5 separate regions of the Homo sapiens genome follow, and regions 2, 3, 4 and 5 are each linked to region 1. Evidence: fine-mapped expression QTL. A gene starts in region 1. Each other region holds a variant in brackets. All regions are shown on one strand. Distances are from middle to middle.

Region 1 (6,116 bases):
ACGAGGTCAGGAGATCGAGACCATATTGGCTAACACGGTGAAACCCTGTCTCTACTAAAAATACAAAAAAATTTGCCAGGCGTGGTGGCAGGCGCCTGCAGTCCCAGCTACTCGGGAGGCTGAGGCAGGAGAATGGCGTGAACCCAGGAGGAGGCGGAGCTTGCAGTGAGCCGAGATCGCACCACTGCACTCCAGCCTGGGCAACAGAGCAAGACTCCGTCTCAAAAAAAAAAAAAAAAATTTTTTTTAAAGTAGCAATGAGGTCTCGCCATTTTGCCCAGGCTTGTTTCAAACTCCTGGGCTCAAGTGATCCTCCTGCCTTGGCCTTCCAAAATGCAGGGATTACAGGCGTGAGCCACTGTACCTGGCTGACAGATGATTTCCAATCCGGTTCATTTTACTTTTCTGTGATTTCCAAGTTTTGACAATGAACATAGAATATTCTTATATTATAAAGATATAAAACATAATATAATCTTATATTAGATATAAAAAGATATAATATAATCTTATATATTATAAAGTTCTTATAAAAGAACTCAGTGAATGTTCTTTTTAAAATAAATTATCCAAGTTTCCCAACAGTACCGTTCTGACAAGACACTATACAAGAAGTTCCTGAGAAATGCTGCACAGATGAACCCAAGTTATTTCTGGAGCAGCAGGTGTACAGGATGGCGACTCATGGTCACTCGGCAAGGCTGTGGGGGCTCAAATTCAGTGAGAAAAATACTCAAGAAATGGCACCTGAACCCAAGCGCCCTGCCCCTGAGAAAAGCACCCTGGCTTCTGGTCAGAGGGCCAGGAATGAATATACTAGGGGCCTGCCGCCCTCTTGCTGTCTGGACAGCCGGAACTCACTGAACCTCTCTGAGCCTGTAAAACTGGGACCATATTCTTTCCCACAGACTAGCTTCAAAAATTTAAGAAGCAATGCATTTTAGGTGCTAAGAGTTAGATATATAGTAAACCCTCAATAAAGCCTACAAAAATGTCCTTCTGTGCTTCAACCACAGCCTGCAAAAGTCATATTGCCTTGTGGGTCCGCTGCAGGGGTGCACCCCACAGAAGTATCCCAGATTCAACCCAGGAAACATAAGCAACTTCCACAATCAAAGCCACAGACCTCCTTTGCAGCTCCCTAAAAATCTGCTTTCCCTCATTCAGCCGCCAAGCTAACCTGCTACCGGGGTTATGACCACAGGGCATGCTCCCAGTACAGGAGCCCAGGAGCACCCGCCCACTTCACCTTAGACCCAAGAATTCGCATTTGCCCTGCAAGGTGCTGCAGGCTAATAAAGCCTGGGGCCCCACAGGCTCGACAGTCATTGAATCTTTGGAGACTCTATTTCCAGGACAGGCAAACCCAGGGACTCGGAAGGTAACTCCCCCAGATTTCTAGGAACACACAAAGAGACGAGGTCTGCATCAAGATTTACCATCTACTCCAACCCACCGGTCCCCCACCTGCCCTCCTTGCAGAGCTGAGCTTGATCGGGGTGGGGAGGGGAAACTTGACTACCTCCTCAAAATACCCCCACTCATCCAGCCTGCTTCCTTTGAAGCAACCGAAGTGGACGCTTCTCGTTAAACTCGAAGCTCGTTAGAAATGACACATTTTACAGCTCAGCTGGGTTCACCCTCCTAGCGCCGAGCCCAGGCCGGGCACCGATCGCTGCAGCCGCAGCAGCACGCGGCCCGGGCTGTTCTTCCCCTGCTTGGGGCTCGAGCCATTTTCGGAAGTTCCCGGGGACCGCGGAGCGGCTAGCGCGCCCGGCCCCGGGTTGCAGGGGCCCCGCCCGGCCCGGCCCCTGGCGCCCCCGCAGCGGCCGCTTCCCCCCGCGCCCGGCAGGCAATGGGCCTGGAGGAGAAGCTGCCAGGCGCCCCGGCGAGGCCTCGGTGGCTTCACCCCGCCCCGGCGCACGGAGGGCCGCACATCCCGGGCGACCCGCGCTCGGCCCGGGGAGCGGCGGAGCCCCAGGGCCGGGCCCGGCCGGAGGGAGCCGCCCCACGCCCGCGCCTCACCTGCTTTCTCGATCTTGCCGGACATTTCCGGGCTGCGCCGGAGGCCGAGGCCGCCGCTCATCGGGCCCGGGCCGGGCCGCCGCGGGGCGACAGGGGCGGCGCGCCCGCCGCTCGCCTCGGCCCTGGCTCGCCACGCCTCAGACCCGCGCCGGCATGGCGGGCTCCGCGCGGCCGCGGCCCTGCGCTCGGCGACCGCGCTCCAGCCCGCCCGGGCCCAGCCGCTCCCGCCGCGCCCGCCGCCGCCGCTCCGCCTCCCGCGCGCCCGCCGCCGCTCCCCCGGCCCGCGAGCCGGCCGCAGCGCAGCGACGCCGCCCGCCCGCCCGCCGGGCCTCGGCCGCGGCCACGGCCACAGCGCCACCTGCCGGGCGCCCGCCGCGCCGCCACAGCGCCCCCTGTGGGCCCGGAGCCGCCCGAGCCTCCCGCGCGACGCGCGAGACGCAGCGCCCCCTGCCGAGCCGGAGTCCCCACGCCGGGGCCTGGGGCCTGGGGTGTGGGGCCGACCCCGCCTGGGACTCCGCATTCCTCTGCTGTGGGACCAGAGTCACCAGCTCCAGACCTGGGACTGACAGCTCCAACCCAGGGTCCTCGGTTGCCCAAGAGCCTGGCCTGCCCCCTCACCAGAGACACAGAGAACCCTCCTGGGTCAGATTTTCCACCCCAGGACGTGGAACTGACGCCCACCCCACCCTAGCATCATCCCGGACCCAGCATCCCCTGTGGGCCAGAGGCTCCACACCAGGGCCTAGAACTCACTCTCACCAGGACTCAACAAGCTCTGCTGGCTGGGAGCCTGTCCTGACCTCCCCCAAACCAGAGATGCAGCACCCCCTTTTTTGTTTTGTTTTTTGTTTTTGAGACCGAGTCTCACTTTGTCGCCAGGCTGGAGAGCAGTGGCGCGATCTCGACTCACTGCAACCTCTGCCTGCCGGGTTCAAGCAATTCTCCTGCCTCAGCCTCCTGAGTAGCTGGGATTACAGGCACATGCCACCATGCCCAGCTAATTTTTGTATTTTTAGTAGAAACGGGGTTTCGCCATGTTGGCCAGGCTGGTCTCGATCTTCTGACCTCATGATCCACCCACCTTGGCCTCCCAAAGTGCTGGGATTACAGGTGTGAACCACTGCACCCTGCCCGCACCCCCTTCTTAATTGGAGACCCCACACCAGGGCCTGGGAGTGGCCTCATAGCACCTCCTGCCAGCCCAGAGGCTCCAGCCGGGGAATGAGTCCACTCTGGCATGAAAGCCCTCTGCTGGCCCAAGGTCTATGCCAAGGCGGAGGATTCATTCTCCACCCCAGCCCTGCATGTGGGACTCAGTCACCCTGCCAGCGAGAGCCACCTGTCCCGGGCTGGGGTTGGCCCTACTCAGGCCTAAATGTCCCCTGAGGCCTAGAGCCTCCATGCTGGCCTGGGCCCAACTCCCTCAGGGACACAGCACACCCTGCCTGCCCTGCTTATTTGACATCCAGAAGGGCACCCTGGGGCTCAGCTGTGGAACTTTTCTAGTGTGGAAATGAGTTCATTAAAAGTCGTGGCTGGGCACGGTGGCTCACGCCTGTAATCCCAGCACTTTGGGAGGCCGAGGCAGGTGGATCACGAGGTCAAGAGATTGAGACCATCCTGGCCAACATGGTGAAACCCCATCTCTACTAAAAATACAAAAATTAGGTGGGCATGGTGGCACACGCCTGTAGTCCCAGCTACTTGGGAGGCTGAGGCAGGAGAATCTCTTGAACCCAGGACATGGAGGTTGCAGTGAACCGAGATCATGCCACTGTACTCCAGCCTGGTGGCTCCAGAGCGAGACTCCGTCTCAAAAAAAAAAAAAAAGTCGTGGTTGGGCACAGTGGCTCACGGCTGCAATCACAGCACTTTGGGAGGCTGAGGTGGGTGGATGACTTGAGCCCAGGGGTTCGAGACCAGCCTGGGCAATGTGTGAAACTCCGTCTCTACTAAAAATACAAAAATTAGCCAGGCACGGCGGCACCTGCCTGTAGTCCCAGTTACTTGAGAGGCTGATGAGGGAGAATCACTTGAGCCCTGGAGGCAGAGGTTTCAGGGAGTCATGATTGCACCACTGCACTCCAGCCTGAGTGACAGAGGAAGACCCTGGCTAAAAAAAAAAAAAAAAAAAAGGAAAAAAAAAGTCATTTAAGAATCAAAGGATCTGCTAAGTCTAAGCACTATTTCGGGTTCTGTGGGCCCTACAAAAGTGGGCACAATTGGTGCTTCCCTCCAAAGAGTTCACAACTTAGCTGGGAAGTCAAAGTTAAATCCTATAATACAAGTAGTAAATAACAACAAATTAGTAACGCAAGTGATGTTCCAATGTGGGGCAATTCTGCTGCCTGCTTCCTGTTGTTAGTCTAAGATGGAATACAAAGAAGTAGCACGCACCACCTGGGCTAGTTTTCCCTCCTGTTTCCCCCAAAATAAGTAAATTAAATAACCTAGTGATGGGGACAGGATTTGGGGGAGGTGCAGGGAGGAGGAAAAACTGCTAATGTTGTGAGAGATTCTTATTCCCATCTCCCTGGACAGTCTAAAGGGTCACCGATTCCACAACTAAGAGCTAGTCAGGCCGGGTGTGGTGGCTCACACCTGTAATCCCAGCACTTTGGGAGGCCGAGGTGGGTAGATCACCTGAGTTCAGGAGTTCGAGACCAGCCTGGCCAACATGGTGAAACCCCATCTCTACTAAAAATACAAAAAATAGCCGGGCGTGGTGGTGCGCGCTGGTAGTCCCAGCTACTCAGGAGGCTGAGGCACGAGAATCACTTGAACCTGGGAGGCAGAGGTTGCAGGGAGCCAAGATCGCGCCACTGCACTCCAGCCTGGGTGACAGAGCGAGACTCCCTCTTTAAAAAAAAAAAAAAGGAGATGGTCATAGATGGCAGCCAAATTTCCCATCATCATTTCATCAGTTGCAGCCCTCTAGAGGTCAAAGGCAAATCCAAAGATTGACAAATTCATTTCCCTCTTCCACCTGATGAATGGATGCTCTGATCCAGGGTGGCCCTGTTCAGCCCTCTTGGCAGATGCCTTACCAGGCAAAACTGGCCCCTGGTCCCAGGCCCAACCCCAAAACACACTCAATGCTGCCCCCAACCCTTCTAGGCTTCTGAGCTGAGAAGAGCCGATATTTTAAATCCAAAATCCTGGTTGAAAAGTAGAAAACTAGACTGCATGGATACTAGGTGCAGTCAGGGGTTTGTGAGAACACAAATATATTTAATAAATTATGACATATCCAATGACAAAAGATTTGCAAACAACAAAGTACTTTGCAAATGGACATTATGGTAAATCAGGGTCACAGAACTTACTTAATAAAGGCTATTCATCAAAGATGTTTATAACTATAGTAGAACACACACAAGGTAATGAAGCAAACGGATTCCCAAAGCCCAGTTCTGGCTGACTTGGAACCTTCTCATGAGCTGCTCCTGCTGTCTAGAATGTTCCCTCCCCTCCTCTCCACTTGGCTGGTCCCAGTCATCTTTTGCTTCTTAGTTTCACTGTCACTTCTATGGAGAATGCTTCCCTGACACGCCCCAACAGGGCCATCCTCCTGTACTGATTAGGAAACTTGATTTCACTCTCAGAAACCTAGCTCTGCTATTGCTTACAGCAAGAAGGGCATTTTTTGAAGATCATAATTAGTAAACCAGGTGTACAATTAGGTCCAAATGCAGCTAACCCAGGCTCTGGAACAAGGCCATTGGTCCTCTATGTTGGTTCCCTTCTCAGGTCATCTTTCTCTACAAGGTAGCAAAGGGTGAAGCTGGGCACCAGCAGTCCTGGGCCTGTCACCTGCCTGCTTAACAACCCCAATGGACAAAGAGGATCTCTTTCCTCATTGTTTCAAAGAGAGCCCCATGGCAGAGTCTAATTAGCTCAGTTTGAGTCACACGTCTATCCCCAGGCCAATGACTGCAGGAATGGGGTAGAATATGTGACTTGGCCAGCCTAGGAATTGTGCCAATTGTGAGAAAACTTGGGAGCAGAGGCTGTGGAACAGCCTAGCATCTCAGGAAGCTGAAGCAAGAGAATCACTTGAGCCTAGGAGTTCAAGCCTGTAGGGTGCTATG
Region 2 (6,116 bases), 30 kb before region 1:
CTCTAACACTTGTTAAACTTATCCCATTTTGCTTATCTTAGGTCCCCATTTATTTATACAGTATATTTTGCTGAACCTGTTTTTTTATTTTGATTTTTTCTTTTTTGAAACAGAGGCTCTCTCTGTTGCCCAGGCTGGAGTGCAGTGGCATGACCTCAGCTCACTACAACCTCCGCCTCCTGGGCTCAAGCAGTTCTTGTGCCTCAGCCTCCCGAGTAGCTGGGATTACAGATGTGCACCAGCACGCCTGGCTAATTTTTGTATTTTTAGTAGAGATGGGGTTTTATCATGTTGGCCAGGCTGGTCTTGAACTCCTGGCCTCATGTGATCTGCCTGCCTCGGCCTTCCAAAGTGCTGGGATTACAGTATTGTTTTTAATTGGAGAAAAGGCATACAAATTTATTAACGTGTATACAGGGAAAATCACAGAGTGATTATGATTTTAGAGAGTAAATTATAGATAGCATAACTCTTCACCCTTAAATACTTCAGCATGACTATTCAAAAAAGCACACACTCCTACATGACTCAGCACCGTTTCACACATAATCACATGAGCAACAGTTCCTCATTATAATCCACCATGGAGTTCATATTCAAATTTCCCGAACTGTCCCCCAATGTCTTTAATAGCCGTTTTGTTCAAACTTGGATCCAATCAAGGATTGCTAAGGAGTACCCTTTCCAAAGTAACATGTTAGACAAAAGAATGACTCACAGAAAGTCAGAAGGGCTGGAACCTGACAGTAAATTAGCATCCCACCTACTTTCTTTTTAAGAGAAAATGATCTATGATTTGACAAACAGCAACTGCTCTTAATATTTCCATGCATTTTCTTCCAGTTATTTGTTTTCTTTTCATAAACACACCCATATATGCAGTTGTGAAAAAACTGTCTTGCTACTGATCAAATGCTACCGCAACTTCTTCTGGCAAGAGGAGGCAAAGACCTGGTGAAGTCTCGCATATGTCATCTCTGGCATGCCTGCCAGCCGGCCGGTCTCCTGGGTCAATAACTGTGATAAAAGGCCGCTGAGTGCGTCAACAGACTGTCCTGCACTGAGACACTATTAAAGGTCCTTGAGCTCCAAATGTACCACTGCACTGCTCTGTGGCCCTGCCAACTTCCTCCTCCTCAAGCTGACATGACCCCAAGCCCTAGAGAGACAGAGTAGGTGTTAAGAGAGGCTGTTGTCCCACTTCCTGGGTGTCCAGGATGGATAAATGAAAGATTTTACAGAAAGTACCTTGAAAGTACTTTGGAACTTTTGGAAGTGCTATATATTTAAAAGCTGTTAATAACATTATCTAAATCAAAAAATATCACAAAAGCCTCAAACTCCTAGATATCAAAGCTTTGACCTGGGATATTTCTTTTTCTTTCTTTCTTTTTTTTTTGAGACAGTTTCACTCTGTCACCCAGGCTGGAGTGCAGTGGCGCAATCTCGGCTACTGTAACCTCCACATTCTGGGTTTAAGCGATTCTCCTGTCTCAGCCTTATGCCTGTAGCTGGAAATACAGGTGCCCACCACCAGGCCTGGCTAATTTTTGTATTATTAGTAGAGACGGGGTTTCGCCAGGTTGGCCAGGCTGGACTCGAACTCTTGACCTCAAGTGATCCGCCTACCTTGGCCTCCCAAAGTGCTGGGATTACAGGCGTGAGCCCCTGTGCCTGGCTGACTTGGAACATTTCTAAAAAAGTAAAAATGTTCAGCCAGGCGCGGTGGCTCACACCTATAATCCCAGCACTTTGGGAAGCTGAGACAGGTGGGTCATGAGGTCAGGAGTTCAAGACCAGCCTGGCCAAGATGGTGAAACTCCATCTGTACTAAAAATACAAAAATCAGCTGGGCGTGGTGGCGGGTGCCTGTAATCCTAGCAACTCAGGAGGCTGAGGCAGAGAATTGCTTGAACCTGGGAGGCGGAGGTTGCAGCGAGCTGAGATCATGCCACTGCATTCCAGCCTGGGCGACAGAACGAGACTCCATTTCAAAAAAAATAAAAATTTTCAACAGACACATACTGCACCAAATGAAACATCTCGAGCTGAACTAAACTCTCAGCCAAACCAAGCCATCATATTGAGAGAGGAATCATCTTATTCCTCAGGAGAATTGTGAATTTTCTTGAAATCATGTTGGACTACCTGTGCTTTCTGCTCTGGAAGGTGATTCCCCAGGCACTTCAGCTCTGCTGCTGGGCCAGTCTCTCAGAGAAAACTGCCTCCTTGCTTCTTCCTGGAAAGGAAGCCCAGGGCTTTCTTACCTTGTTTCCAGGGGTACAGATGACTTCGTTTCAAGGGCTTCTGTTTTTCAATAGCATTGCCCATTTTAAAGCCAGAGGACACAGGGCCCTTCCCAGCCCCAGCGTCTTTCCGGAGCAGCAACTGAGGACCGAGTCACTGGCTGAAAGGGGATATCTCTTGGACATCCCAAACCA[C/T]CCAGCGGCAGAACCCAGGCAGCCTCACAAGGGAAGCCTGAGGAATCTCATTCTCAAGTCTTTGCCTTCTGCCTTTCAAAATCCCTTTGGCCCCAGGGAGGAAATCAGAAGAAAGGGCTTGTTATCGCCCTACCGGTGCCTCTCAGGCATGGTCTATATTAAGAAGCTCTTTCCTCAGCATCCTTTTGACACTTTATTACTCATCAGCACAACAGCGGCTTGCAAGATGAATTTTATGTCCAAATACTTTTAATACCACTTTTCTCCGCAGGAGAAATGGGGAATCAGGTGATCAAAATGCTGAAAGTCATAAATGAACCATTCTGGGGCATGCCAGGAGAAACATTTTCATACAGACCCTTATGCCACGCCTTCTATTTCAGAGTCCCACGCTCAGACCAGTGTGCACCACGTAACAAGTACTGTCAGAGAAAACAAGCTGATTTCACTAATGCTGTGTTTCCAAGGGAAACACAAAACGAAACAAAACATCAAAACACTGCTACACCTCAGTCTCCAAAGAAGAAAACACCTTGGGGACAAATACAGCTAAGAATTTATAACCCCAAGCTCCAAACTCCCACTGCACTTTGGGAACAATTTTGCTGGAGAAAGTGCTACGCTACCTAAATTCTGAACAAAGGGTTTTCTAGAAGAAAAGAAGGGAATGAAATCAATCACATATTCTTGGTAAAAAGGAAGACAATGTCGAGGTGGATGAAAAGATTTCATTTATTTCAGTCCCAGAGTTTGAGGTTATAAAAGCCCCTAAAGAATCCCCACAGCATAATATGGGTAAGAATGCAGGCTCTGAGCCGGGCGAGGTGGCTCACGCCTGTAATCCCAGCACTCTGGGAGGCTGAGGTGTGTGGATCACTTCAGGCCAGGAGTTCAAAACCAGACTGGCCAACATGGTGAAACCCTGTCGCTACTAACAATACAAAAATTAGCCGGGCGTGGTGGGACGAAGCTGTAATCCCAGCTACTTGGGAGGCTGAGGCAGGAGAATCACTTGAACCTGGGAGGTGGAGGCTGCAGTAAGCCGAGATCACACCACTGCACTCCAGCCTGGGTGCAAATACTAGCTCTTCCCCTTGGCTTTGCCAGTTGAGCACAGCAGCCTCAGTTTCCTTATCTGTTAACTGGGCATAATTCCAGTCTCACCTCCTCAGCTGTAATAAGAATCAAACAAAAGAGAACATTTGTGAAGTACGTAGCATGCTGCCTGACACTCAGGAGGTCCCTGGTGAATATTTAACTTTTTTTTTTTTTTTGGAGTCAGGGTCTTGCTGTGTCACCCAGGCTGGCGTGCAGTGGTGCAATCATGGCTCACTGCAACCTCAACCTCCCTGGCCCAAGCAATCCTCCTCCCTCAGCCTCCAAAGAAGCTAGGACTACAGGTGCATGCCACCTCGCCTGGCTAATTTTTAAATTTTTTTGTAGAGACAGGGTCTCCCTATGTTGCTCAGGCTGGTCTCAAACTCCTGGTCTCAAGTGAACCTCCTGCCTCAGCCTCCCAAAGTCCTGGGATTACAGGTGTGAGCCACTGCACTGTGCCTATTATCACCTTTTTTTTTTTTTTGAGACAGAGTCTCACTCTGTCACCCAGGCAGGAGTGCAGTGGTGCAATCTCAGCTCACTGCAACCTCTGCTTCCTAAGCTCAAGTGATTCTCTTGCCTCAGCCTCCTGAATAGCTGGATTACAGGTGTGCGCCACCACACCCAGCTAATTTGTGTATTTTTAGTCGAGATGGGGGATCTGCCACGTTGGCCAGGCTGGTCTCAAACTCCTCACCTCAAGTGATCCGCCCGCCTCGGCCTCCCAAAGTGCTGGGATTACAGGCGTGAGCCACCACGCCCAGCCCTTCATCACTTTTATAATTGTAGACGGAAAATACATTAGCTTAGGTGGCAGATATCTGGCTTCGGTCAATTTAGTCAAAAGCACCAAAGTAAATTTATTTTACAGAGTTGGATGGTACAAAATGGGAGCAAGTATAGAACCGGAGTAATATTTGGGACAACATTCCAAAAAAGACCCACAGAACCAGAGAGACCAAGTTTAAGAGGCACTTAATGCTCTGTTAAGTTTCTGGGCGCAGTGGGCCACTGTGTTAAACCAGGCCCTTCCTTTCTGAAGGAAGGGGAAATAATCTTTCCAATTTATGCAAAACAGACAAAAACCAAAATCCAAATCTCTACAAGATCTTAAGGCCTCATAATTGATCTACCAATACAGAGATCATTTTTGCAAAATCACGGCCTGAGAGTCCAAACTTGGCAAAGCAAATGGCATGTGTCTGTCGCACCGTCTCCAATGAGGTGGCAGGAAAGAGCATGGGTGCAGAGGCTCCCTGTTTCCCTCACAGAGCCCGCAAGCTCCTCCCCAGATTAAACTGCAGCCACAAACTGGAATAAAGCACAGGGAACCCCCACCACGCGAGAGGGGTCCAGTGAAAACTAACAGTTGCACAGCAGAATACCTGGCACACAGTAGGTGCTTAATAACTCTCTGTTGAATAAATGAGTGGATAGGTGACAGAATAAACCAATGAGAATTATCCCCAACATACACACACTGATTGTCCCCACCCCCTGGAATGCATTAACCAGAGTTTCTAATCCATAAACAACCTCTCCTCTCCTAGCAAGAGTCAGAGGGTATGGGCGGCTGGGGCGCTGTTTCCTCCACTTCCCCACTCCTTAGCTCAGGCCACTCTGGGCCCTGGAATTTCTTCCCTATCAGGAGTGCGAAGCCCCTGAAGTCAGGAGCCGTGTCTGGGGCAGCTCCTCCTGGCGCCTGTGCACACAGACAACAATGGGTCACAGTTACAGAACCTGGGCTCAGGTGTGCCCTCTCTCGTTTCTCAGCTGGGGGCCAACACATTTGTAACTGTGTTTCCATGAAAAAACGCATCCTAGGTTCCAAACAACTAATATACTGATGAACCTTTAGAATGAACTGGACATTTTTCCTTGAGAGAACAGCTTTGAAATGAGGACCCTGTGGTCCAACCCTTCTCAATCATGGCTCCCCCAAAATAACTCCAATGTGAACTGTTCAGGGGTAGGGGGAGGGGGAGAGCAACAGAATAACCTAATCTTAAGAATTCCTCTCTAATCCCCAGCTCAGAAAGCGTCTTTTACAGTCATCCCCTCTGCAGTGTCCCAGACTAAGCAAACAAACAAAAAAACATAGAGCCATCCCCAAAGACCAATATGCTTGCAATCCAAGATGGGCAAGCGACCCATCTCCAGTCCACATTTCAGGGAGACAACAGAAAATTTTTCTGATTCTTCACAAATGGGAAGAATCAAAAGTGAACTGTTACCAGAAGCAGAAGGCTGACTGCACAGCCACTGTGATGAGTTTCCAAGCCTTGCACAAATACGCCGAGAACGCTGTGGCTGTACGAACTGCCTTCAATCAGACCCGACCTGGCCATGTGTTATCAAGGTCACTCCTTCAGGTATGACTACTCCAAGCCTCAAATCTCTGTAAAACCCAAGGAGATCCACAAGATCATCTGCTCCAGCGACTCCCTTCCCCATTTCACAGATTCCTCAGAGAGGGGCAGGGATCAACGCTAGGCATTTAGTTGGAGGGCTGGATCCAGCCCCCAAATCTTTATCCTTGGCTAGGAAAACCTCTGCTACCCATTTCCTCATGACCAG
Region 3 (6,116 bases), 23 kb before region 1:
TACTCAACAAATACCAACACGGAGCTTGGGGAGGGTCGGATAACATGCACGAAGAATCACTTAGTTATCCCGGTGATCAGTGCTAAATTCAGGGTGGGGGACGCATGTCTAGCAGGGCGACCTAATCTAAGCTGGAAGTCAGGGAAGGGTGAGACTTGAAGGATGAGCAGAGCTGGACCAGGCAAAGGGGCAGTGTGTATGAAAGACCTGTGTAGCTGGAGGTATGTGCCCAGGGGAAGGCCGGGGGTCAGATGGGACAGGGCCTTATAGATCCAGGGCTTTGTCTCATGGGCTTTGGGGGTTCCTAAGGTGCCGGCAAACCACGTGTTCATTCTTCTGGGAAGAGAGGTCTATGGCTTTCACCAAAGTCTTAAGGAGTTTCAAGAGGTTAAGAATGGCCGGGCACGGTGGCTCACGTCTGTACTTAGGATCCCAGCACTTTGGGAGGCCAAGGTGGGCAGATCACAAGGTCAGGAGATAGAGACCATCCTGGCCAAGATGGTGAAACCCCATCTCTACTGAAAATACAAAAATTACCTGAGCATGGTGGTGAGCACCTGTACTCCCAAGCTACTCGGGAGGCTGAGGCAGAAGAATCACTTGAACCCGGGAGGTGGAGGTTGCAGTGAGTGGAGATTGCACCACTGCACTCCAGCCTGGTGACAGAGCGAGACTCCCTCTCAAAAAAAAAAAAAAAAAAAAGAGGTTAAGAACTACTGATCTAGCCCAACTCATTACAATAAAATGGAGAAACTGAGGTCCAGAGAAAAAAGACCTTTCACAGGAGGCTAGAGGCCCCAAGTCACTGACTCCCATTGCAGTGCTCTCCCACAGCTAGCCCGCCGACCCACGTCTGCAGGGGATGTGTCAACAACTACATATGCTGGCTCCCATCCCACTGGCCACTGCTGCTGGATCCCACACGAGGCTGCTTCTATCCAGGCAGGCCTAGAAGGACAATCTACGGAAATGAACTGCAAAGTCACCAGCCCATCTTTCTTGTGCAACCTAATCTGCAAAACACAGGGGCTCAGAACCTGTCCCTTGCTTCAGATTTCAAGGACCCCCCCAATGATACAGTTTCTGGCTTTTCAAGAAGCTTCATGGATGAGGCTGGTTCACTGAAGGGCAATCAGGGCTCAGCATCCAGCCTTCTGAAGAAGCTGTTTACTTGTTGTTCTTTACAAAGTCAGGACTTGGCCAGGAACTAAACGTAGCCCTCAGTATGGGAAAGGGAGAAATTTGGAAGACTTGGTGGAAAGTCTAAATATGTAAGGAGAATGCTTCTTAAACCCCTGATGTGGCCAGGCACTATGGCTCATGCCTGTAATCCCAGCACTTTGGGAGGCAGAGGTAGGTTGATTACTTGAGCCCAGGCGTTTGAGACCTGCCTGGGCAACATGGCAAAACCCTGTCTCTACAAAAAAAGGAAAAACATAATTAGCTAAGCATTGTGTTATGTGTGTCTGTAGTCACAGCTACTCGGGGGGCTGAGGTGAGAGAATGGCTTGAGCCTGCGAGGCAGAGGTTGCAGTGAGCCAAGATCGCGCCATTGCACTCCAGCCCGGGTGACAGAGGCAGACCCTGTCTCAAAAAAATAAAATAATAAAAACCCCTCGATGCTTCCTGTAATACTAAAGGTAGAAGTCCTAAGTACGTGGATTGGCATTCAAGGCCTTTTGGAGTCTGGCCCCAAATTACCTTTCCCACCTTCATCTCCCACTTCCTCACACGGCGACTGGACACTGTGCATAGCCGTGCACCTGCCTGCCTGCACTGTAGCTCCTGTCCCTCCTCTCCAGCGAGTCAAAGGAAACCTCACAGCCAACATCCAGTGGACTCTCAAAGATCAGTGTTGAGGGTCCCACAGCCTCGGGTCCCACAGCCTCTGCTTCACTTGGACCATGGCAGTATTGGAAGGGGTAATGCCCGCACTGGGGAAGACTCCAGCCCCTCTCCTGGCCAGCCCGCTGACCTCAGCCTCCAGGCTGTGATGCCTCTGCCCTTTACAACTCCCCGCCTCCAGATAAACTTGACAGAGCCACTCACTGCTGATGGCCCTCTGCACTGAGCTGCATGAGGATGAACACGGTCACAGCCTGCACTCTGGCTGTGCTCCTCAAGCTTGTAAAAATGCACCTGTCTCCCTTAAGAGGTGTGGAGTCCATACACAATGGGTACTCACTATCCACTGAACAAAAATTAGTGAGCGTCAGCTATGTGCCAGGCACCATTCTGGGCTCTGGTGAAATAGCAGCCGACAGGGAGCTTACCTCCCAATGAGGGAAAATATCATAAAAAAGAAGCAAATAGGCCAGGCGCGGTGGCTCACACCTGTAATCCTAGCACTCTGGGAGGCCAAGGCAGGCAGATTGCCTGAGCTCAGGAGTTCAAGATCAGTCTTGGCAACATGGTCCCTGTCTCTATTAAAAACACAAGATATTAGCGAGGCATGGTGGTGCATGCCTGTAATCCCAGCTACCGGGGAGGCTGAGGCAGGAGAATCGCTTGAACCCAAGAGGTTGCAGTGAGCCAAGACTGCACCACTGCACTCCAGCCTGTGCAACAGAGTGAGACTGTCTCAAAAAAAAAAAAAAAAGGCTACATTTAAAGGGGGAAAAAGAGCGGGGGATGAGGGACAGAAAGTGATGCGCACCCTATCTGTTATTCTGGGCCCAGTGGTTAGGGCTGACCTCTCTGGGTGGCATCTGAACAAAGATGTGAGGCAGCTAGGGATAGGGAGCAAAGGACACAGGAAGAGGAACTCATGTTTGCCCAGTTCTTCCAATCGAGTACTCCCCAGCATGAACTCACCAAAACCCTACCGCAGGATCCATCTTATCAATGAGAAACTGATTTTTAAAAGGAGATGGGTGAGCAACTTTTCCCAAGATCACATGATCAGCAAACGGTGGCACCAGCAGCCTTTAAACCGTGGCTCTTGTCCATGGCTTCTCAGCAGGTGCCCTACAATATCTGGGGAATGAATGTTCCAGTAAGAGAACGGCAAGTGC[A/C]AAGGCTCTGAGGGAAAGGAACACCTGGAAGAAGAGCACAAAAGCCAGTGTGGCTGGGACACAGTGACGGGGAGAGGGGTGTCAGGGAGTGAGTTAAGGGCCAGAGTCCAGGGCGCACACAGGCCACGTCGAGGACCTCGGATCGCTTCACATGTGTGGGGAAGCCCCAGGCAATCATAAAGAGGATCCATGTGATCCAGTTCACACTCTGGCTGTGAAATGCAGAATGAATGGCTGTGAGTTGGGAGAAGAAACCAAGAAGCCGGTTAGGAAGGCATGGGGCAGTCCAGGGAGAAACGGCGGTGGCCTGGAGTAAGGGGTCAGCAGAGGAGGTACTAAGAAGGACCAGTCAGGATTTATTGGAGTAAATCGCAGGGGTTTACCGAGGGACTGGATGTGCGCTGGGAGAGAGGAGGCAAGGACACCCTCATTGTTTTCTCATCCAAACCAAGATTTCTAAGCCTGAACAATCGGATCAAAAATGGCATTATTTACTGTGATAGGGGAACCCAAGGTGAGTTACCAGGCAGAGAGTGAAGGGGAGAACCAAGAGTTCTGGTTCAGGTGCATAATGTCCTAAAGAGGGGCTGGAAACATGCATTTGAGAAGGACCAGTGTTTAGCTAGCTGGCTTAGTGCCACGGGACTAGGCTGCCTGTTCCCAAATGGCAATTCAGGAGACAGAAGAGCCCAAAACAGAAGGCTGAGATGAAACCCTTTACAGAGCACGTACACTTGATGCTGTAAAATTACTCATGGGAGTACTGCGTGACTTCAGATATAATTTAAATTTTAGAGGTTGTGGCTTTTTGTGTGTGTGTGTGAGACAGGGTCTCACCATGTTGCCTAGGCTGGACTTGAACTCCTGGGTTCAAGTGATCCTCCCACCTCAGCCACCAGAGTAGCTGGAACTACAGGCACATGCCACGGTGCTTGGCAAAATTTTAGTTTTCACGTTCTGGATGCTTAGTTTGTAAATGTCTTGCTTATCATGACTAATATGTCATCCAAATTAATCAGCTAATATCCCAAGGCACAATATACATTCAGAGTGAGATTCACCAAAGAGTTTTCTTCCCAACTGCTCAGCTTCTGGCCATCTCTTGTCAGGGCTCATTAGATCACTGTTGTTTTTCCCTCGCAATACTGCTGACAAGAAGCATGAACTGGAAGCAGAAGTGTCACCATTTTCTTGTTCACGTGTACTTATACTACTAGAAAAGTCTTCAGTCTGTGATGTCTTTTTGGGGCTATTATTAAGCTACTTCTCTATTTTATAAGGGTTTGTTTCAATACTGGGCAGCGGCTTCAACCTAGCTCTTCAACCCAGCTGGACAAGTCACATAAACCCTTCAGGGCTTTTTTTTTTTTTTTTTTTTTTTTTGAGACAGTCTCACTCTGTCACCCGGAGAGATAGTAGTAAGCTGATGTTCATTAGGCACTTAGCCCATGCAGTACCAGGCTCCTTTCTGTGTATTTTACTCTCGTGGTTGCATTAGATCCTCACGATAAGAGAAGGATACTGTTACTGTTCTCATTCTACAGAGGAGGAAACTAAGACACAGAGCTTTTCTTTGAGATCTGAAAGAGTTAAGATTTGTACATAGTCATACACCGAATTGGGGCAAAGTTAGGGGAATAGTTCATCTGACTATTGCCCACACAGCTATATTTTCTTCTTTTCTTTCTTTCTTTTTTTTTTTTTTTTGAGACAAGAGTCTCACTCTGTCACCCAGGCTGAAGTACAGTGGCACGATCTCAGCTCACTGCAACCTCCCCCTTCTGGGTTCAAGCGATTCTCCTGCCTGAGCCTCCCGATTAGCTGGGACTACAGGCATGGGCCACCACACCCAGCTAATTTTTGTATTTTTAGTAGAGACAGGGTTTCATCATGTTGGCCAGGCTGGTCTCAAACTCCTGACCTCAGGTGATCCGCCCACCTTGGCCTCCCAAAGTGCTGGGATTACAGGCGTGAGCCACCGTGCCCAGCCTTGGGCCTCAGTTTTCTCATCTGTAAAATGAGGCCACTGTCACCTCCTTCCAGTGCTTTTGAGAGGATTAAATACACATAGCACAGCTCCTGGCATTACTGCACAGAAATTCTTTGTTACGTCATCATCATCATCATTATTATTATAAGGGCAACCTTTTATCTTACAGGTAAGTCCCTATGACCCTTCCAATTCCTCTCCAGACTTTGAGTGGTGGTTCCAAAGATACCCCCCACCTCTACCAGCAGTGTCACCCAGGGAACTCGCTAGAGATGCTCATTCTCAGCCCAACCACAGACCTACTGAATCAGAAACCAGGCGCCAGAGCCCAGAAACCTCCAGGTGCTGACGTTTGAGAGCCACCGAACAGGCAGGCAGCATTCTGGGTACCCGGCAGGTCCTCAGGACAGCGACCACCTGGCCCCAGATGACCCTGTCAGCAACACCTGCCAACATCACAGGCTGCAAGTTATCAATTTGTCACAAACATCAAGCTTCTTACCTGTCTTTCTGGCTGTTTCCTTTAACCTCCTCCCACAGTATATCACTTGCATAAAAAATGAAACTTCTTAGAAAAATCCTATGCCTGTATCTTTTCCACAGCAACAGAAAAAAAAATCTCTGTCCAAGTTAACCAAGACAAGTGTCCCTATATAATTATTTTTCCAACTTTCTCTATAAAACTTAAATTGACAAAAATACTAATATCCCTTTTATCCATTCCAAAGAATAACAATTTGAGATTTGATGTGATTTTTACCTTAAGATAATGTGATCTGGTTGTTATATGTACATGTTTATGTTTCTTGAACCAAACCATCCCAGATTTTGATGCTTCTAGGAGTGACTGGAACATGCCAAGTAGCAGATGCCCATGGGAGAACGGAGCCCCAGACAATCCCACCGACCCTCCCGCAGACTCCATGGACTTGACCTGCATTAGAACAGGCTGTGGACCTGAAGCAGTTCTCTCACTGCAAACCCAGACCCTCTCCAGTGCGAATTTGTGGAACGCGATAGATGTTAATGATTACTCCCTCAGTGTTTTCTCATCCAAATCAGGACATTTCGAAGGGGGTAGGGAGGACTCTGTTAATAATGATGCCAGGACA
Region 4 (6,116 bases), 43 kb before region 1:
TGTATTTTCACCTACTAGCAATATAGGTTTCATGAGGATATCTGTAACCCAAGTGGCTAAAACAATGCCTGGCATGCAGCACATGTCTAATCAATGTTCATTAGATAAATGCATGAACGTGCTTCTTCTGAGTTACCACTCTCTCATAATTCGGAAGCACACAGGGACTGCCTGGTTCCAATTCTGTAGATTCTTTAGCTCAAATCCCCGCCAATGATTAGAATGCTTCCCTGTGTCCGGTTTCAAATTCCTGAGGCAGAACCAATTGACCCGGCTTGTCTTCCCAAAGCAGGCCACACGATAGAGGTCAATGGTAGCTACCCATGGATGAGCCATTTAGTGTAGAAGGGCCTCTTGGCACAACCGAAAAAGAGCAAAGCCATCTGAAGCTATTCAGTGTGGAAGCAAAAGCTCTCCCCAGATTGCAAGCGCACTGCTGTGTTACAGCAGAGGCCACACTGGGTATCAGTGGAAGCAGGGGCATCAGGAGCGAGTTGGATCAAGCTAGACGTTTAGCTGCCAATCCTAACCTTAGTGGGGGCTGCTGCCAGGACTGAGTGGTGTACCTCAATGTCTGGCTCACCCAGAAGAGGTGCATCACTCCCTCAGGAAACTTAACTGTCCATATGCAGCCATCTGCTGAATGGTAAATGTTCTCTCTCTGGTTGGAATGATGGAAACTCCAAGAAATGCATGATAATAAGAACACCCATGAATGACATGTTCCCATCTCATCCTCTCCATAAACAGATTTGTTGACAAGTGTAACCAGCAAACATTTAATAAAAAAATCAATGTAACTCTGCAGGCAAGCAGGCATTCTTTAGAACTCCTCACCGCACCCCGTTCCCTGCTGCAGATTTTATAATGACCTGAAAGGCAGAGTGGCTGACACAAGCTGGATAGTTCTGGCTCAGGAAGATGTCTCATGAAGCTGCAGTCACCTGAGGCCTGACTGGGGCTGGAAGAGCTGCTTCCCTTCCCTGTGGGCTGCTGGCCAGAGCCACAGACCCTCACCTGTGACCTCGCCTCACCACAGGACAGCTGGTCTCCCCCCAGAGCAGGGGATCCAAGAGAGACAGGCTGGCGGAAGCTACAACATCTTGTATGACTTCTGCTGTATTCTACTGGTCATAGGACCAGCCCTGATCCAGAGAGGGAGGGGATGACACCTGAGTGTGAATACCAGGAGGCGGGGATCCCCGGACCATCCTGGAGAAGACATACCACAGTCTGCTCATGTAGACAAAGACCTATTTTTTAAGGGCCCAGAGCTAACAAAAGGTTTTTACATCTTAAAGGGCTTTCCTTAAAAAGGAAAATAAAGCAGCATATGTGACAGAGACCACAGGTGGCCTGCAAAGCTTAAAATATTTACTATATGGTCTTTATAGAAAAAGTCTGATGACCTCCGATGTACACTGTACTTTACAGATGATTTAAGGGATCTTTCAAGGCTAATTCTTCCTCTGTGCCATGTTCTCTTTATGCTCGGACTTTAGAATCTATCTCCCAAGTGAGCAACTCTATTGAAACAGGTGCTCAGCGAACTGTAGCTCTGAATATTATAGTGGCAAGCACTAAGAAATGAACAGCTCATCATAACCTGAACAGAAAGATAATAATCAACAGTTCCTTGTCCATAAGTAGGTGTCTGATAAATACAAACTCAGTGAATGAATGACTAAATGGATACGAAATACTACAAAGACGCATCTTGAAAGTATGGAGCTATCATGACAATAAAAATATCTTTAACCAACGATTTACAATATAAACACAACAACATGTGAAGGTGCTATAATAACATTAACAGCTGAAATTTATCGAGGGCTAACTCTATGCCAAGTATTGTCAAGCATTCTCGTATTCACGCCTCATATGCTAAGGCAGGTGTAATTAGTTGCCTTCATTTTACAGATGAGCAAATTGAGGCTGACGGAAATTAAGTAATTTCCCCTGGATTACACTGATACATAAGTAGCGGGGCTATTTTCTCTTAGCAAACTACATAAAAAAATAAAGAGCAACTCTGCATCCTGAATGTCATGCCTGAGATGAGCTTGCTGAAAGCGCAGCAGAGACAGCAGCCCTCTGCTGGCCCAGGCTTCTCCTCCATCCCTTCTCGCTCCCTCCCTTCCTCACACTCAGCTGGCTGGGATCCCAACCCAGGGACTCCAAGAAGGGCCCAGCTCCGGGCTCCCTATGTAAGCAAGGTCACAGAGACTTGAAATGGGTGATTGAACCTAATTACTCACTGCTCTGCTCCCTCTATCCAAAGAGAGCTTGAAAACATTTTCACTGAGGTCTTTGCTGAGATTGCAGACTCAGCACAGGACCTGCCTCCTGCTTTCCTAAATGAGCGAAGTGGCTTGCAGCGGCTCTAGCTCTGGGGCCAACAAGGTTTTGACGCTTGAATTAGGAGAGGGCAGAGAGAAGGCTGCAGCTCTTGCAGCAAAATGCAGGGCTGTCAGGTATACACCCAGGACACACTGCAGCCACTGCAACAGAACAGAACTGAGCTCTAGGCCACGGGTTTCCTAGGCGGACATAAAGAGATCTCACTCTCCCTGAATGGCCTTGGAGATGGCTCAAAGTGTCCACTCTTCCCAGATTCTTGCACCTGAGGGTACAGGACTTGCTCAAGACTATACAGCCAGTGTCAGAGACAAAGTTCACTGATGCTAATTCAAATTTTCCCACATTTTGGATTCTGCTCTTGGAAAGCTTGAAGTCCAGTTGGTTGAAAAGACAGTTGATGATGACAAGTTCTGGAGGGAAGAGGACCTGGGCAGAGGGAACCTGGACTAGAGGCTGAGTGTACCTGTGTCAGGGCCAGAAAGAGAGGGGCCAGGATAAAGGCAGACAGAGGAAGTCAGAGGCCTGGAACAAAGTGGGGCGTGAAGGGGAACATGTGTGACTATCTGGACAGGAGAGTCAGCTGACCAAGGACAAGGGCAAAGACTGTCAAAGGGCACTGAGGGACCAGCTGAGAGCAGAGACATGAATCTGTGTCAATAACACACCACTGTGACCTCAAAGGGATTCTCATAAATACAGCTGTCCAATCCCCGCACAGTAAACATGCAAGCCACAACAAGATGATCACCTCCCTCAGTCCACCCTGATTATGAGATAATCATCATCCACAAAAATATTATTCCCATGCCTAACAAGCAAAGGGAGGAGGGGCCCTCTAGTCTGCCCTTGTAAACAGACACTTGCAGGAAGGGAAAATAGGGAAGAAAGGGGCTTTGA[C/T]GTCAGAGACCAGTTTAGGTCCCAATTCTGCCACTTACTAGCTGCATGATCTTGAGCAAGTTACTGGATGCTCAGTGACCTGGTTTTCTCATCTGTAAAATCACAATCATACTACCTACCCCAAAGAACTCTTGTGATGATTGAAAGCAACATGCTTAGCTCACAGACAGCTGTGACAAATTGTTTGCAGTAATGGCCAAACGATTCCCTGCTCCTCATACCCACAGCTTGGCAAGATGACTTTGCACTCTCCTGTTAGAAGGGCGGGTAGAAGGAGGGGGCAGGTCTCTCTCTCCCTTCCCCTTGAATCTGGGCTGGCCTGTGGCCTGCTTTAGCCAATGAAATAAAGTAGAGGTAACTGTGCGGCTTCTGACCTGGGGCCTCAGGGCTGCCCCCCTTCCCCGACCAGGTGAGCAACCCCACTACGGGAGGGACCCTGGGCTAGCCTGCTGGAGGCCCAGGGATAAGCCCTCCCAGCAGCTGATTGTAGACACTTGAGGAACCCTAGGCAAGACCAGGAGCCCAGCAGCCCAGCCTGAACTGCCAGCTGCAGAAGTGTAAACTAGGTGCCCAGTTGTTATTTAAGCTCCCTAAATAGCGGGGTGATTTGTCAGCAAGGACTGTAAATACTCAATGCACCACAGCTGATAATCAGGACTTCTCTCTCGTCCGGCAATTCTCCTGGTCTTGAGCGATGTTTCCATCTCTACCAGGTCATTCCCATCAGCATTCAACCTTGCCATTATTTCACCCTTTATGAAAAAACTTTCCCTTGACCGCAATACCCTTAACAACTACCACCTTGTGTCTTCACTCCCGCTTTCAGCAAAACTCCAAGAACGCCCATGCTCCCTGTGGCCAATTCTCCTCTGCTCATTCTTTGACACTTTCACACCCAACACTCCACTGACACTTTTTTTTTTTTTTTTTTTTCTGAGGTGCAGTTTTGCTCTTGTTGCCCAGGCTGGAGTGCAATGGCGTGATCTTGGCTCACTGCAACCTCTGCTTCCCAGGTTCAAGTGATTCTCCTGCCTCAGCCTCCTGAATAGCAGGGATTACAGGCATGTGCCACCATGCCTGGCTAATTTTGTATTTTTACTAAAGACAGGGTTTCTCCATGTTGGTCAAGCTGGTCTCAAACTCCCGACCTTAGGTGATCCGCCCGCCTCGGCCTCCCAAAGTGCTGGGATTACAGGCATGAGGCACTGCGCCTGGCCCCACTGACACCTCTTGTCAAGGTCTCCAGTGACCACTATGTTACTGAATGCCAAGGCCAAGTCTTGGTCCTCAAGGGATTTGACCCAGTCAGCATCATGTGTCACCGAAGCCCCCTCTCTGCCTCCTCCTCAGGAACACTTTCTGCAGTTGGCTTCTGAACACCAGTCTCCTGCTTTCCCCCTACCTTCCTGGAAGGTCTTTCGAGGTTTCTGCTGGTGCTCCCTCATCTCCTCCACCTCCTAATGCTGGAGTGCTCTGGGGCTCAGGCTTTGGCCCCTGCTCTTCTCTGACTTACTTGCTGGTATCTCACCCAGTCTCATAGCTTTAAACACCATCTTTATGTCAACAACTCTCAAAAAAGCCTACACTTCTTTTCTGAACTCCAGATTTTTATACTCCAGATTTTAATGGCCTAATGGCCACCTCCTTGTAGCTCTCTGACAGGCACCTCAAACTCACTCTGTACCCACACAGCCCCAATCATCCCCCACAATCTGTGCCACTGAAGCTCTCCTGCTTCGAAAGTCAACCTTCCGATGCTCAGGAGAAAACCACTGGGGTCGTCCTAGACTACTCTTTCTCTCTTTCACCCCATACTCAACCCCTCAGTAAATCCCACTGGCTCTCCCTTCCAAGTCCTTACAGTCATCTCAAGGCCTGGCTTCATCTGCCATGGGTCTCCAGCCTCCGCCCTAGTCACACATTCCCAGGTCAGGGCCTCTGCGCCACCTCTTCCTTTTCCGGAGCGCGCCTGCCCAGACATCTGCAACACACAGGATTCTGCTCCTTATTTCTGATCACTCTCCCTTTCCATCACATGTAAAACTAACAACCCTCTTCCCCTGTCCATCCTGTCCCCTTCCCTGGCTCCTCTATATGATACCTGTCATCCAAAAGCCTACATATTATACTTGTTCATATGTAAACTAAAAACTCCAGAGGGCAGAGATGTCTTATTTTCCTCATTAGGTATCCCCCGTGCCTGGAACAGTGGAGACACAGGACCTGTTCAATAAACATTTGTTGGATGAATGAACATCCAATCAATAAATGAACAAATATAGAAACAATAGAATTTTTTTTAGTACAGTGTCCCATTTAATAGTAAAGGAAAAATGCTGAAAGCCTCTATAGTCAATCATGAGGTTCTACAAACCTTCCACTGTCTGTTTTCTCCTTATTACAGTGGTGAGAAGAAGAAGGAGGTCTCCATTTGCATAGATGGAGACCTGAATGTGTGTGTGCCGGAGAAGCCAGAAGGCTCGCTGAGCAACCCCAGTCAAACAGGAGGCTGCTTGTTCGTAGCCTGCAAGTGAAGAATGGTTTTCATATTTTTAAATGATTTCACTTTAAATCGTTTTATGGGTATCTACATAATAGTCTTACTTTTGCTTCTTGGGCCTGCAAAGCATAAAATATTCATGACTTGGCACTTTTAGAAGTTTACCAACCCCTGGAGGCAAACTTCTCGGTAGTCCACAAGGCCCCCTGAAACAGTTATCCAGGTATTTCAGCAAAAAGTGACATCTGAAATCAAGTGCCTTAGAAGCAATCAGTGAAAAGTGATTGGAAAAGTGATTAAAGTGGGCACTGGCCATGGCTATTATCTAAAATAATGGTGACACCCTCTATGCAGCTGG
Region 5 (6,116 bases), 150 kb before region 1:
TCCATCGGGTTCACCCCGAGGTGCCCATGAGATTACAGACACGTAGAGAGTGCCTTGCTGAACTTTAGGTAGAGAACGGTGGGCCCAAACCAAACACCCTCCAAACCCCAGGTCCCTAGGCAGGTGTGTAGGCCAGAAGTATCTCCCTCCAGTCTTTCTGTGAGTTTCCATCCTGAGGCTGCCTCCCTGGGCTCTGCAAGGGAACTCTCACCTCCGTGACACCGGGCCGGGTCTCTCTTCCCAGAGCTGCAGCACGCTCCACATTGGCTCCCTGTCTCCAGGGCAGCACTTCAAGCACCCGATCAGCTCTAGCTCATGCCCTGAGGTCGGGCTCTGCTTTGTGGTCAGGGTTTCCTGCCCGGCTGTTGTGCTCGCCATCGACTCCCCAGATCTCTCTGACACCCTCCTGCCTGCTCTCTAGTGATCCACGACCTTCCAAGTCATGGGGCTCAGGACAGAGCAACGTACCAGGGACTGTGTCTTGGCCCACAGCACAGGGGTCGCCAGCCAACCAGGCCCAGACCTTGATGCTGCAATATTTCCATGATGGCTGAGCCAGGCAGAGGCTGAGAGCCTGGGCGCAGGCAGCAGGGGGCAAGCAGCGTGTGGCTGCTCTCCCACCAAGCAGCCACATGGGTCAGGTCCTTCATGTCTCTGGGCCTCGGTTTCCTCAATTACACAATAGGGAGTTATAGAGCAGTGGCCCCATGTATAATATGGTAATTTTATACACACCCACACACACATATTAAAAAATGGTCATAGAGCTAGGGCTAGGTGAAAGCACAGGTGTAAAGCACATCTCGCCTGACCAGCAAGTCCTTGACACGTGTGAGTGACAGCCATTCACTGAGTCAGGCCTGTGAGCAGGTGCTCTGAGTAACAGAACTTGCCGGGGACCCGAGGCTCCGCCAATGGAGGATGTCCACGTCTGTCTTGATAGATCAGGGATTCTAAAGGTCAACACGAGGGGAGAATAGGAGGCCAGGAGGTCTGCAGGAGGCCCTGAGTGGAGCAGTGAAGGCTCAGGGCACACAGGAAGGAGCGGGGGCGCGGGTGGACTCAGGACTTCCTACCCCAGGTGGTGGTGGCTGCCCAGCAGATGGCAGCCGTGGGCTATGTGCAAAGAGGTGGCTGAGGAGCAGCTGACCCAGGCTACCCTCCTAGAGCAGCAGCTGCAGGTCAGCCTCTTAGGATGGGCAGGTTTGGACTTGAAGAGGCAATGGGTCACACAAGTGGGTCCTTCCAAACCCCTGGGGTCCTCCTCAGCCACTACTGCAGAGGGTGACATTTACTGAGGGTGGGCCCATGGGGTAGATCTGGGGACAGGAGCCCATTCCAGTTGTGGATGTGGCAGTCGCAGGGTCCGCTCCAGGGAAGGTGACTGTGCTGACCCCTGAGCTGTCTATTTGGGTCTTGGTATCCTTCGTGCCCAACGCCCTGGGGCTCAGCTCTGAGAAGCTGCCGGAGCCGACCATGAGGGTCTCTCAGAGGCGTCTGCAGGACCGGCACACTTACCCCTCCCAGTCTGGGGCATGTCTAATTCGTTTTTAGAATCATCCAATGACCACAACTGCCACCAGACACACATTCCCAGACTATGTTCCAGCCTCTTCACATCATTTCACTCGGCCCTTTTAGAGATGAGGAACTTGCCTGAGCTCAAAGCTGGAATGCGGGAGGGTAGAGGTGGGAACCTCGGTCCATGGGGCTCCTGTGTCCCTACTTCAATCACACTGCCACCCAATATGCTGCTCGGCTTCCCCCACGAGGACTGAAGGGCAAGAGGGTCCCTCTCTCTCCAAAATGCCCATGGTGCAGGGGCCCTGGGTCAGGAAGGAAAGGATATCTGTACTGCAGCTTCTTGATGAGCTCCTCTGGGGAGATGAAGGTCCTGTAGGTGGTCAGGAATGCCTCGCAGTACAACACCAAATCTAGAGGGAAAAAACAATGCAAACTGCTTGTCTGGGTGCAGAGTGCTGGGGGGTGGTAGCCAGGGTGGATTTGAGTCCTTGCTCTGAGAGAGGCAGGGGAGATGGCACGGGGAGTGGGATGGGCGAGGGAGCCGAGGGCTTGGGAACCCCCTCTGGTGTCTCCGCCTGCATGTCCCAGAGAAGTCACACGTCCTCTCTGTCCATCTCTCAAAGGAAACGGCAGATCAGAGAGGGGAAACAGGAAAGGGTTTTATCTCATGGGCACTTTCTACCGATGATGGTGCTGCCTGGAGAACCGTGCTGTGGGAGCTGAGGCCAACTCTGGTCCCAGCGGAAAAGGGCACTTAGGCTGACGAGTGACGCCTGCCCTAGGCATCAAAACCCGGTGGCATGCCTGTTCCAGGTAGGAGCCAGCCCTGGATTAGACTCTGAGAGGCTCTGCCTGTCCTAAGGCTTTATGCTTCAGAGGGTCTCAGCCATCATGGGAACAAAGAAAATCGTCTGTTCAAACCCGTCAGCAGGATCCTGAAATGAAACCCTAGGCTTTACTTTTATTTTTAAATTTTTATTATGATTATTATTTTCGAGACAGGGTCTCACTCTATCACTCAGGCTGGAGTGCAGTGGTGCGATCTTGGTTCACTGCCACCTCTGCCTCCTGGGTTCAAGTGATTCTCCTGCCTCAAGCCTCCCGAGTAGCTGGGACCACAGGCACGCGCCACTACGCCTGGCTGATTTTAATACAGACAAGGTTTCACCATGTTGGCCAGGCTAGTCTCAAACTCTTGGCCTCAAGTGATTCACTCAGCTTGGCCTCCCAAAGTGCTGGGATTACAGGCGTGAGCCACCGTGCCTGGTCAGTACTTTTAGATGGTAGGGTCCAATCAGAAAAATCCGGGGAAATTCCACGTTTTGGGTCCTAAGGGATAGGCTGAAGAGGCACGGCTTGGGCCGGGTACCAAGGAGAGGCATGGTGCCAGCCACTGGGCAGGTGTGGGCTGGCAGCTCCAGCTTACCCCTCACCTCTCCATGCCTGCCTCCTCTTAGAGGGGGCTGGTACCAGTCAGGGACTCCCAGACTTTCCAGAATTACAACAGCCCTATTTATTTGCTGTGGTGACACCTTCTCAACTGTGCTGTCTCTGATATTACAGAATGAAGTGGAATTTTAAAATGTAGGACACTGCCTGAGCCAACGGGTGGCCAGACTCACTCCCTGCAGCCACCCCCCGTGCCTGCTGAGGTGTGAGGCCCAAGGAGGCTCCGCAGCTGTGCTTCTCACTGTGAGGCTGGGTGCAAACACGCACTGCTTAAATCTTGTGCTCTGGACATAGACCACCTGCTCCCACCTTCTCCCTCATTCCCGAGCTGCTGGGTAGAGGAATCTCGAGGAACCCACATCTCCAGCTGAGTCATGCTGGCTTGGCTCCTGCCCCCACCCTTGCCCCATCCCCTCTTGCATCAAACGAGAGGAAAACCCACGCCTGCTCTTGCACTGGGGGCTGCGTGGGGTGGGGCTGGCAGGTGAAGGAGGCTCCGGGCTGGGAATCACAGCAGGGCCCATCCGCACTGTGCTCAGGCTCATTCCTCGGCCCCCACACCCACCCAGTTCACTGTCAAGCTTGGATTTTTGTTCAAAGAGTTTGGGGAAGGAAGCAGAGATGGCACCAGCATAGACCCATACCTGCTTCTGGAAGAAGGGGCCCAAGTCAACTGGCCTTTGCGGGTGCATCATTGCCAGTAGCCATGACAACTTCGTGGGACTCGCTGGTGAGCACTGGGCCA[T/C]GCCTTGAACATATGCCACATCCTTCAATGCCCAGAGCAATCCCACAAGGACAGAGTCCTGTTACCCTACCGAGAGAGGAGGAGCCCAGGCACGAGGCCACACCACCCGCAAGCAATGTGGCGGGGTCGGCGCCCATGTCTGCCCAATTCCAGAGCCCTCCCCCATCTGCTGTGCCCTGGATTATGGCAGATGGGACAGCGCCTGGCTTCTGGGACGGGCAGTGCTGTGCCACCCCTCTAGAGATCACAGGACTCTCGATGCGGTCCTGAGCACTCTGTGCGCCCTGGCTCACCTGGTCTTTGAGACAGCCCTAAAAGGCCCCGAAATTGTCCCTCATTTTCCTCCTAAGGAATCGGAAGCTCCGGGGCTAAGTGACAGGCTTGGCACACAGTTGTCAAGGGATAGACAGGATCTAAGCTGAGGCCTGAGGCCAAGGCTGACCTGACCTTCTCCCATGCAGGTCCTGACACCTGAGAGCAGAGCCGTGCAACCACAAAGCACCCCCACACGGCCTCTCCCTGCCAAGCCCTGCTTGGCAGGCTGGGCTCCACGGGCCTGAGCCACGGGGCTCCCAGCTGCTCGTGATGCTGGTGCAGTCTCTGGCTTGCAGGATGCACCTGCCCAAGGAGCTTGCTTTGTTACCTGCCACAGGGTGCTTCACCCTCCCAGTGGAGCCATGGCTTCTGCCTCAGTAATACTTCCTACGTAAAACTTTGGTTCTGGGGAGCCTCCAACCCTTCTGCTAGTAAAATCAGGCAAAGCTCCCACCGGCACGGAGCGTCCTCTCAGCAGGTCCAGCCAGCAAAAGCCAGAAGCCTCTTGGCTGTCCTGTCTCAGGGACCCCTCCAGCCTTGGCCACAGCTGGCTGTACCCGACAGGACAGTGGAGTTCACCCTTTGGAGCCGAGGTCTGAAGCCAGCTCCCATTTCAGCCCCTCGCTGTGGACAAAAAGGAAATGAAAGTCGCTCCCATGCCTGGCTGAGTATGGAGCCCCCTATGTCAGGCAGGGAGGGGGATTCACTGCAGAGAAGCCAAGCAAGGGCTGCACTCGGCGCTCAGGATGCTGCTGATCACGCCCCCAGCACCGCTGACATGCGGGGCAGGTTTCACACTCCCTCACGTAATCCACACAACAACAGGCACCGTTCACCCCTTCAACAAGTGGAGTCGGCTCAGGCCGAGAAGCCCGGGGACTGCCCAGGGGCCCTCTGAGCCTGTCATGGCACAGCTGGGGCTAGGATGCAGCATCGCCAGGTCTGGGCCCTGCCCTGGTCAGAACAAACAAAGGGTGAGGGAACAGTGAAGGGGAGGGCGGAGCAGTGGCTGCGGTGAGTTTGTGGGAGCCATCTCTTCTTTTTCTCTAATTTTCTGCAATGTAAATATTTTTTAGTACTACTTCCATAATTCAGAAATTCCCCGAGTCACTCTGGGTCACATGTTTTGGGAAACGTGCTGAGGAAACACAGGGACAGAGTCCCTTACAGAAATGAAACGGGTTGGGCTAGGATTTCAAGGTGGGGGTGTTTTCATTCCCTCCACAATTTACTTCACCATTGCTCTGACATCATCTTTTAAATCATTTTTTTAAACGTAAAAAGAGAAGCAGCGTGTGGAGAGACTGGCCGGCCAGGTGGTGCTGGCCCCTTGAGGGCAGGCAGTGAAGGGTGCTGTGGCCATGCCCCATCAGGTCACTAGCACCTCCTTTCCAGAGCATGACTGGGAATGACTTTGCTAGCAGAGTCCACCCAACAAGACGTTTTAGGGATTAGGGGACGGTCCCTGCTTTTCCAGCCCTCTCAATCAGCACACTGAATGCGTGGTAGGGTGGGGCAGCTGTGTGCTGTGAAACTGAGGCCACTGCTACAGAATTGAAGGTTCCTGGACAGAACAAACCTTCAAGAATTTCCTCGTGGAGTATGTGAGTGAAGTCCGGTCTAATGGTCTGCAACAATAGAGTGACTCAGCAGTCAGGAAAGGAATCAAAAGGTACCTGCATGTTATCTTAAGTTTAGTACTACTGGGTGACATGCCATCACTCAAGGCGCTGTCTGTGGTGCGCTTAGTATGCGCTGAGCCCCTCAAGGACCCTGGAGGCCCTGGGGTCACTACCTTGTACCAGCGGAGGACAGATGCCACGCACGCCTGGAGTTGAACATGATCTACTTGTCTTCCAAGGTGGGCTCTCCCTGCTCTGACTCAGGCGCACCAGGACTGCTGATCAGACCTGCTCAGGGCTGTGGCTGCCAGGAGGGGACAGGATAGCGGTGGGAGGCCGAGTGGCACCCGGGGCAGGACCAGCCCCAATCTAGTGAGCTCACTGACACCCTACCTTTCCTGTCAGTCTCAGTAGCATGGACCAGTAAGATGTCCCCAGATCCTCCGCGGACGTCCGGCCCG

Direction of the effects. Alleles are on the strand shown, and positions count from the first base shown. SD is a standard deviation of normalised expression in the study named. Not every link is listed here.
With allele C in place of T in region 2, the expression in neutrophils of the gene that starts at base 2,332 in region 1 is higher (large effect, 1.3 SD a copy in BLUEPRINT).

The links.
Region 2: its variant is fine-mapped to the expression of RAPGEF1 in neutrophils (BLUEPRINT, PIP 0.95).
Region 3: its variant is fine-mapped to the expression of RAPGEF1 in pancreas (GTEx, PIP above 0.99).
Region 4: its variant is fine-mapped to the expression of RAPGEF1 in whole blood (TOPMed, PIP above 0.99).
Region 5: its variant is fine-mapped to the expression of RAPGEF1 in whole blood (TOPMed, PIP above 0.99).

The regions. Positions count from the first base shown.
Region 1 is chr9:131,737,745-131,743,860 of GRCh38, forward strand. It overlaps RAPGEF1 (Rap guanine nucleotide exchange factor 1), which reads right to left and starts at 2,332. Exons shown (of 27, transcript NM_001377935.1): 1 at 2,026-2,332. The coding sequence starts at 2,086. RefSeq lists silencers at 1,716-2,045, 2,096-2,145, 2,296-2,555.
Region 2 is chr9:131,707,353-131,713,468 of GRCh38, forward strand. The region is part of intron 1 of RAPGEF1 (Rap guanine nucleotide exchange factor 1); the gene reads right to left. Among named protein-coding and RNA genes, the nearest start is that of RAPGEF1, 30 kb to the right of the region's middle. RefSeq lists enhancers at 567-626, 2,068-2,849, 2,759-2,858, 4,716-5,217, 5,218-5,717. The variant C/T (reference allele first, on the strand shown) is at 2,442.
Region 3 is chr9:131,715,182-131,721,297 of GRCh38, forward strand. All of the region lies in intron 1 of RAPGEF1 (Rap guanine nucleotide exchange factor 1), which reads right to left. Among named protein-coding and RNA genes, the nearest start is that of RAPGEF1, 22 kb to the right of the region's middle. The variant A/C (reference allele first, on the strand shown) is at 3,015.
Region 4 is chr9:131,695,069-131,701,184 of GRCh38, forward strand. The region is part of intron 1 of RAPGEF1 (Rap guanine nucleotide exchange factor 1); the gene reads right to left. Among named protein-coding and RNA genes, the nearest start is that of RAPGEF1, 42 kb to the right of the region's middle. The variant C/T (reference allele first, on the strand shown) is at 3,259.
Region 5 is chr9:131,590,250-131,596,365 of GRCh38, forward strand. RAPGEF1 (Rap guanine nucleotide exchange factor 1) reads right to left here. Exons shown (of 27, transcript NM_001377935.1): 17 at 6,049-6,116; 18 at 1,850-1,934. Among named protein-coding and RNA genes, the nearest start is that of PRRT1B, 48 kb to the left of the region's middle. The variant T/C (reference allele first, on the strand shown) is at 3,719.